Regions from separate parts of the Homo sapiens genome. Here region 1 is linked to region 2. Evidence: fine-mapped expression QTL. A gene starts in region 2. The other region holds a variant in brackets. All regions are shown on one strand. Distances are from middle to middle.

The links. PIP is the estimated chance that this variant, and not a neighbour inherited with it, causes the effect.
Region 1: its variant is the best candidate, but not a certain one, in a credible set for the expression of CHL1-AS2 in left ventricle (GTEx, PIP 0.88).

The regions. Positions count from the first base shown.
Region 1 is chr3:119,703-124,100 of GRCh38, forward strand. LOC107986057 (a long non-coding RNA gene) reads left to right here and starts at 3,890. Exons shown (of 3, transcript XR_001740582.2): 1 at 3,890-4,012. The variant T/C (reference allele first, on the strand shown) is at 1,723.
Region 2 is chr3:195,192-199,589 of GRCh38, forward strand. It overlaps CHL1-AS2 (CHL1 antisense RNA 2), which reads right to left and starts at 2,150. Exons shown (of 4, transcript NR_144487.1): 1 at 1,776-2,150; 2 at 1,265-1,317; 3 at 805-849; 4 at 567-723. CHL1 (cell adhesion molecule L1 like) reads left to right here and starts at 1,572. Exons shown (of 28, transcript NM_006614.4): 1 at 1,572-1,872.

The DNA of each region.
Region 1 (4,398 bases), 75 kb before region 2:
GTGGTGGCGGTAGCCTGTAGTCCCAGCTACTTGGGAGGCTGAGGCAGGAGAATGGCATGAACCCGGAAGGCGGAGGTTGCAGTGAGCCAAGATTGTGCCACTGCACTCCAGCCTGGGGGACAGAGTGAGACTCCCTCTCAAAAAAAAAAAAAAAAAAAAAAAAAAAGAAAGAGAGATAATGACCTGAGAATGGATGAAAAATAAGGAAGAATGTTGGGTGATATGTAGTCAAATGAGATGGGATTCAATGCTGACTGTTTATGCTTTGGACAGGAATGGTCTAGAAGTGTCAGTGGAGAGAGATAGGACATCTGTCCTGCCACCAGATGCCATGATACCATAGGAGAGAAAAGAACCACTCACTAAGAGTGCTGCAGAGAAAGATTTGCCATTAGAGGAGAAAGGATTTTGTGTGAGCAAGAAGTGAATGTTTGCTGATGAGGTTGAGAATATCAGTTGACTGAGAATTGACATAGAGCTCCATATGGCCCCATGAAAGGTTATTAAAGATGGGGAGGGAGAGATAAGGGTCAGAAAAGGCAATGGGAATTAGGGGTGGGGATCTGGAGGATGAGCAACAATATGAAGCACCTGGACACCTTGTGACATTCAGCCTAAACAGGGAAAGGGGCATGATGACTAGCTCCAGTGGTCTCAAGGCAGATGGAATAAAGAGGCTTCTAGTATTGAGGGGGAAAAGGGATGAAGAAGGCCCTTGCCAGAAAGAAGAATTCCGTGGTTCCCACTTAGCCAATGCCATTGGAGACAACACACCCTGCTGAAGGATGATCTTCCTCTGAGGTTGTAGACACCTGCTTGGCCTTTGCTGAATGGAGCTTTTTTAGAGTTGGGTTTTCTTTTTAGCATAGGCACTCTCCAGGCCTACGCATATAGCAGCCTGCAAGTGGGGTGTTATCACAAAGGCATATTTAACTCAGTGTAACTAACTGATAGTGGAACATCAGAAAAAAGGAAGAACATCAGAAAGAGAGAAATATACCCAAATAAACTAATTGCAAGGAATAAAATATGGGTTTAGTTGACAGATATGTTGGTCAGTGTGCAAAAAAAAAGGTAGAATAGTCCATTATAATAGTTTATTATACCTGCCAGCTTCCTTGTTTTGGCCATTTGTTTACTCTCCGTTTTTGACACCTGCCTCAATTACTTGTTGTGACTCTGTCGATTCTGATGTTGCAATAAACCTAAACATTATGACTAAAACTAAATATTTTGTGCTTTTTTTCTTCTTTGCCTCATACTAAACTCAGCCAGAAGCTGAACACTCTCATGAGAGTTCCCAGTATGATGGAGAAAAGAAAAAAATATGACAAGCACTGCTTGTCAATAGAGAAGCAAAATAGAACATGCCTTTTTTGGGGGGCCAGAAGTGCCACCTTTAGATGTTAAATATCATCCCTTCGGTCAAAAAAGATGCTGAAAATCTTTCTAACTCTTTCAAACTGTGCTTTCATCAAACTGTCAGGACTTCCATAGATAGCTGAAATTCCAAATCAAAAACCTAGCAAGCAGTTTCATCGTCTGTGTTCAAATCTCAGTGGGACTTTATAGCACTTTCCTTGGGAGCAAAATTCATGTGTCTGAAGCTCAGCTTACATTTCATGTTGAAAAATTGCAATGAATACAATGAAGTTTCTTACTGCTACATAAAATTGAAGCACCAAAGAGAACAGTGTGTATTTCACAATGTTTGATATAGTA[T/C]TTGATCATAACTTGAGGGAATCAATGAACCTTCAAGAAGAAACTCTTGGGGATCCTCATGCAGCAAATTCAATCATTTGTTCATCAACTCATTACATTTCTATTGTACACTAGCCATGTGCTGGGCTCATCCTAAGGAACTAAACAGGCTCTTAAAATGACGGTCTGTAGGCGTAAAACCTTTTCCATTTTAATAAGTAAATATAAGAAAAATACAACTCATGAACTAGGTATTTCCCAGGTTTAATTCAGAACATCATAGTGTCAAAAATTGTAGTTACTAATTGTGCATCAAAACAACAATGCCAAAAAAAGAGATAACAATCTTTTTTGTTCTTGAAAAACTAGCAGATTAATGTATTTTGCTACTTAGATATTATCAGAAGTATCGACCAGACTACTTTAAGCAACAAAATGACAACAAAAAATCAAAGAGTATATTGGCGAACGGAACTGAGAAATTCAGTACACAGAACTTCAGGCACAGCTTGATCCAGAAAATCAGCATTCTTTTTCTCTTCCTAAACTTCTCAGCCTTTCTCTCCACAGTGTCTTATCCTTATTTTCCCCAACTATTAGTACATTTCTTTTAAGAAAATCTGGAAGAAAGCTTCTGAGAACTCCTGGCTCAAATCATCACAAATTAGAATACAACATTAAGAAAAAAGTGTATTCCCTCTCACCTGCTGCCATCATCTACATATCAATCTCAGGAAAGATGCTAATTTCACCTCTGTGAGTTATCTTCTTAACTTTAGACCAATCACTTTTCCCAGGGGATGAGATATTAGCTAAGCCAAAGACTTTGTAGCCAGAAGTGGCCAATGGACTGTGATTGATATCTCTTCAGAAGCAAGGGAGTAGTTAGTACCCCCAAAAGGAATGATGATGAGGAGAAAATAAAAGCAACATATATTCACTATGCCCAACCTGGCAACAAGAATTGAAGTAACCTATATATCTAACAGATGAAATTATTTATGGTACAGCTAAACAGCAGACTGCTATGCAGATACTATAATTATCTTGCAAAAATATGTCATATCATGAAAAATGTTCACAACACATGGTTAGGTTTAAAAAGTAGCTTATTAAACAGTAGATCTAATAGAATACTATTTGGATAACACTTTTGTATTACAAGATGAAAAATCTATATATTATTATGTATGCAGAGAAAAAATACTATAAGGAAATACACTGAAATGCTAATTGTGGCCATCCTTTGGAGGCAATGTTATAGGGATATTTTGTTGTTAGTTGTGCATAATTATGTTAACTACTTTTTCATAATAAAATGTATTACTTTTGAAATCAAAGAAAGAAAAAACTATCATGTGGAAATATACACCTAGGAGTTTGGATTTATTTCCAAAGGAAAATGTCGTGGTGATAGATTCCTTGCAATAATTTTCATAGACACACAACACGAGTGTGTATTAGTTCCTCCTGAGGTAGAATCACAAAGTATTTGCTCTTAGGCTCTTGATCTGAGCCCTGAGGAATCACATTTTCAGTTTTATTCCAGGCATGTTTCAGAAATGGCAAGATGAGATGAAAGAAAGATTAGAGTCATGTCTAAAAATTGGCTTTACTAGGGCAAGTAAGTCCTTCCTGTATAGTGAATTGTCATTTTGAACTGTAAGACATTTTTTTGAAGAATTCTTTAACCACAAAAACAAAGATTTTCTTTTTGTCGTTTTATAGTCTCAATTTCAGCAAAATATAGTGCATATAATAACAAACAGATGGAGGAAACAAAACAACAAAATATTCAGTGTTAGGCCAGCACTGATTAAAGCTTAATATTTTGTCTGGGGGTCTAAAATAATCTTTTCAGAGAAAGTAGTTGTCAAGGCAGCTGGTGTAAAACTGTTTATTCTTTTTGTCATCTTGTAGAGATGTTAAAGCTTCCCTATTGCAGTATAATGCTTTTAAATCCATAAACGATCCAAGGTTTTAAAAGATGTACATATATTAGATCTGAATTTGTTCGAATTATTTATAAAGTGGAGAGATGGTTAGCATTAATGAAATGATCCTTTCAGTCCTTGCAAATTGTTCCCATACCTCTTTCTCATACTGAAATATTTACTGAGTTTCTGTGATGTCACTGAGTTGGTTGCTATGGGAAACCCATACAAGATCAGGAAGTGTTCTTATTTGTAGTAAGTTCATTCTATTCAAATTAGGTATCCTTTGGAATAGGAAACGTTTTCAGCCATTGTACATTATTGAACTTTTATTTTGTCTACCGTGTACAAAGTACCTGTGAGATGGGGATACAAAGGTAATGAAGTTATTTTTATACATATGAAGGTAATTATATTTTTAAAAGAATTACTATGTAATGCAATGTAGCTAAGATAATAATGCAAAAAAAACTTGCTATATGAGATTGGAGGAAGGAATTTGAAATGCATTTAGCTGCAAGTAACACAAAAGTCAAACTACACTGACTTAGTTAAACAGATTTTTTTTTTCTTATGTAAGAATTGGAGATATAGTAATTAAGGACCAGTTCAATAGCTTAGTGCTGCCAGAAATGATGCCTCCACTTTTCTCTTGGCCTTTTCCTAAGACTTAGCTCCTCTGAATTTCAAGATGGCTACTAGAAATCATATCCACATTGAAGGCAGAGAGAAGACAGAGGAAATGAAGTAGAAACAAATGGAT
Region 2 (4,398 bases):
TTGATTTTTTAAAAAGCTACTGGCCATGCCTATTGAGTTTCCTACTGAGCCCAGCACCCAGACCAGTGATTGATTAAATAGTAGCTGCTCAATAAATATTTGTTTTGTAAATAATGATTCTATTGTCAAGAAACAAATCACCAAGAAAGAAGGAGCTATATATTTAAGAGTACTCTGTTCATCTGGCCAAAATGGAGTTCCGAGTCCCTTGCTCAGCTGATGTTTGTTCACCCAGAAGATGGTAAACTCCTGAGACCAACTTCGCTTTGTTGTTCTCTTGTGGTTCCTTGACCTTGGAAATGTTTTTCTACAGGCAGAGTATTTCCCCCTGTTGGAATTTTATTTAATATTCTATCTTTGTTTCTACTTTAGAAAACATGCCACGTGAATAATGATGCCTCAGGCAAAAGAAATCACTCCAGCAGTACAATTTAAACTTAGGACAAATCCTGCCCTCACTTGCATTCACAATTTGCCAAGGCAGTTGGTAAGAACTGTGCCCACACACAAATTGACAGAATCGAGGCCCCAAGGTTAGCGATGATTAAAATTTAAAAGTCCATTCATTCATTTTCAAAATATTTTATTCGATTGCTTCTGAGGCAGAATCATGAGTTGCCTTCGCTTTTGCTGCTCCCGGTGGTGGCATCCAACTCTGAGGATAGCTCATCCAACTCTGAGGGTAGCTCTGAGGGGAGCTAAATATCCTCATTGTTCAATGAGCTAGATGAAAACAAAACGAGGCTGTAAGGTCAATCTCACAGCCTTAGTGGAGTAAAAATTAGAAGTCAATAATTCTCTTACCAACAAAGAGGACTTGCATTCAACAGGATTTTCAAAAGTGGTATCCTGTAAAAATTTTGGAAAATACCACCATAATGGAAAAAAAATAAAGTGGCATATAAATCAAATGTAGTGCTAAAAATTATAATTTTTCCATATGAATTTTGGAATCCTAAAATATTTTTATGTGTTTGTGGATTCATAAGGCATCAGAACTGGCTTTTTGCACTGAATATGAGTACAGAAGGCTTTCCTCTCCAATAGTGAATTAATAAAGGATAAGTAGGAAAAACGTTACGAAACGATGTGGTAACATTATAGACTCTGTATTAGGGCAAAAATTGTGAGATAGTAGAAGATCTGTAAATTTAAGCATGCACAATTTGACAGCGGATGGTCGTAGCATATTTTGTAAATTCAATAGCAAGCCCCACCACGCCCTTAAATGAAGGAAAGCAAGAAGACAATTTTTAATACGTACATGGCACCACACCCCTCTAAGACGCAGCAATGGGAGAAAAGCAGATTGGCGACCTGTGTGTGCAACATGAACCGAGTGAAACCATCGGGGAGGGGGTGGGGGGCGTTTCTTTTAAATGTCGCTTTTGCAGATAAACGAGCAGGGATCCTACCTCTTTTGACCGGAGATGTTGAAAAGCACGACCAAAGTTTTTGGCTTGGTCTCTTGCTTTCCACAACGAGATAAAGTCTGAAGCCTGTAACTCTCCCTGTCCCGCGGGAGCGTGCAAAGGGAGGGAAGATAAGCGGCGTGGGTGAGGGGTGGCGGCGCAGAACCCAGGAAGGGAGCAGAGGCGAGAGCCAGCCTCCGGCAGGAGGGCGTAGACCCCGGTGCCAGCCAGAACGGCTCCAGCCTTCCCGCGGCCAGAGAGCCAGCGGCGGGAGGGGACGGGCGGGACCTCCGCGGACAGCCCCGGGTGCGGACCAGCGGGCAGCGGCCGGCGAGACCCTCCCTGGATCCGCCCAGAGCTTACCGGACCCTGCGCGCCCCCGTCCCGGCTCCCGGCCGGCTCGGGGGAGAAGGCGCCCGAGGGGAGGCGCCGGACAGATCGCGTTTCGGAGGCGGCGCAGGTGTGTCAGGGGTGGGGGTCCGCTGGCATCTCTCGTGCCGGCGCTGGGGGGGTCTCCCGTGGAGGAAGGGCTGAAGGTGCTCCGGGAGGGGTCCACTCGTTATGGAAAGGAAGCGGGGCGCGGTCAGGGTCCCTCGTCCGCAGTGGGGGTGGTCCGGGCCCCTCAGCCTGCACCCGGGAGGAGACGCCCCCTTTTCACGCCCCGCCCCCGGTGGCCGAGGCCGGATTCGGACAGCTCGGGGTCAGTCGACGGAGCACACCGGGCGCCCGAATCCGCCGGGTCCCACTCACGCCCGCCGGCCGCCGGTAGGTTGGCCCTCCCGCTTCCAGCCTCCGCCACCCCATCCCTCGCTGCTCTCTGAGGAGGATTCCAGACCCCCCCGTAGATCTCCGCCCTCTCTCGGGTGGGGCTCCGAGGTCTAGCTGGTCTGGGGGTCAGTCCCGGCCTCTGTCTCCCACCGCGCCCCTCGCTCCCCTGGACACCGCCTGGTGTGTGGGGCTCAGACCCCCCCAGTCCACTGCCCCTGTGTGGCTCCTCCTCTCAGGAGAGGATTCTAGATCCCAGCCCGGGGGGGGTTCCGAAAATGCCGCCAGCCTGGAGCGGGGAATCCATGGACCGTGGGGTTGTGGGGTTGGGGAGCACGAAAACCCAGAGAGGGGCTAGAGCTCCACCTCCCCAGACCGCCGAGGGGCGAGAGGGCGCGCCGGGGGCCGTGGTTGCCATGGCTCCTGGTAGCGGAGCCCGGGGGGCTGGAGATGCCGGTCGCGGATGGTCCCTTCTTCCTCTTTGTGCCTCTCTCTTTCTCTCGCTTTTTTTTTTTTTTTGGAGTGTGAGTGTGCGTGGGGAGGCAGCACGGAGAAAGTGATTAATTTGGGGAGCAGGGATTGGAGCCGGGAGGCTGGGGAAAGCCAGCCCCTCCGTTCCCACTCTCCGGGCTCGCTGCGAGCCACAGTGTCTCAGCCAGGGGCAGGGCCGGGGAACTCCTGCGAAAAACCACGGGCCGGAGGAGCAGCAGCCGCGCGGGCCCAGGTACCCCCGCCCCAGACGGCCAGCAGGGTGGAGCGCAGGGTGGGCGTTTGGGCTGCTGGGCGGGAAGGCGGGCGGGGAAGGGGTGGGAGGCCGGCGGCGGAGGGCAGGTGTGCGTCGGCAGGGCTGGGTGGCCCGGCAGAGAGGGCGCCCCAGGTTCAGCCCCTCCTCGAAGGGCGCCGGCGTCCAGTCCCGCTCGTGGGAGCCGCGGAGCAGCCCCAGGGCCGGCGAGCGGCTGCCCTGCCAGGCGCGTGCGCGAGGGCGCGCTCCCGCGGGAACGCGCCGTGCGCGGGGAGATTTGCGCGTGCGCGTGGCGATGGTAACTGGTGGGCCCCCCGGGCTCGCTCTAGGCGGAGGCTCCCGGGACGCCCACGTGGCTTCGAATTCCAGCTCCACCATCACTGTGATGCGTCACTCTGGACTAGGCATTTAACTACGTGCCTCAGTTTCCCTTTCTCAATAATACGGAGATTATCGATACCCTCTATACTGGGTTGTTGCAAGACTGGAATGAGATGATACAAGTAATTTAACACCATAGATTTTTAAATTTAACACCATATGCATATTTGATGCATAATAAGCACTCAAAAGTTATTGTCGTTGATGCCATTACTGTTAGTTAATCCTCAGTTTAATTACATATGGTGCATTTTCATTTCTCTGCATTTTCATTGAAGTAAAAATTCTGCGTTTTCTAATTTTGGAGAATAATCTTAATTAAAATATGAATATTTGTACTGCACAGTCCAACTCCTACGAAGCTCTGCCTTGCAGCAGATTGGAAGAGAGAAACTGATCAACTGCCGATGAAGTTGGCTTTTCAGTATATTGATGGAGAGAGAAGCTTAGGAAGCTCTTTGGGGAAACTTTTGGTGACAAGAAAATAAAAAGTTTATCCCAGAGTTTTTCTTTTGTAAATCTTTGTGTTTTCTCTTTCACCTGCAGATGTTGCAGTTGGGTTTGTCTTAATTTCAGTCTCTTTGTGAGGGACCACCATTTGGCTTTCATAATTTAACGTGGTTACAGAGCCTATGTATACCCTGGCTTTCCATTTTATGGCCTTAAGTGCTGCAGTGGATTTACCTTTAGTAATGGCAGAACGTAGTGTATAATCATTCCTTGCAAGCTCCTGAATATTGTGAGCAAATCAATGGAGACAAATAGTTATTACTGGATGGGTGTGAGTACTGGCTATGGCAACTCATTAAAATCTCTTTCAGGGTATGTTTGTACCCACTTCACTGCAGCACAAGACTATGATGATGAATATATGTTTCCCAGATTGTTATCTGTTGCATGTAGACTTACGGATCCTTTTCTTCAAAGAAACGGCTATAGATATTTATTGATTCCTCATGGTTATATAGGTCCTCCAACCTATCTGCTGATAAGTACACTGTACACTTCGTGGGCCTAGCTGTAGGTCTAAGAGGAGTTGATTTTGCACATACTATACTTATTGCATTTAAGTTAATTCATCTCATTACATGAATTGGT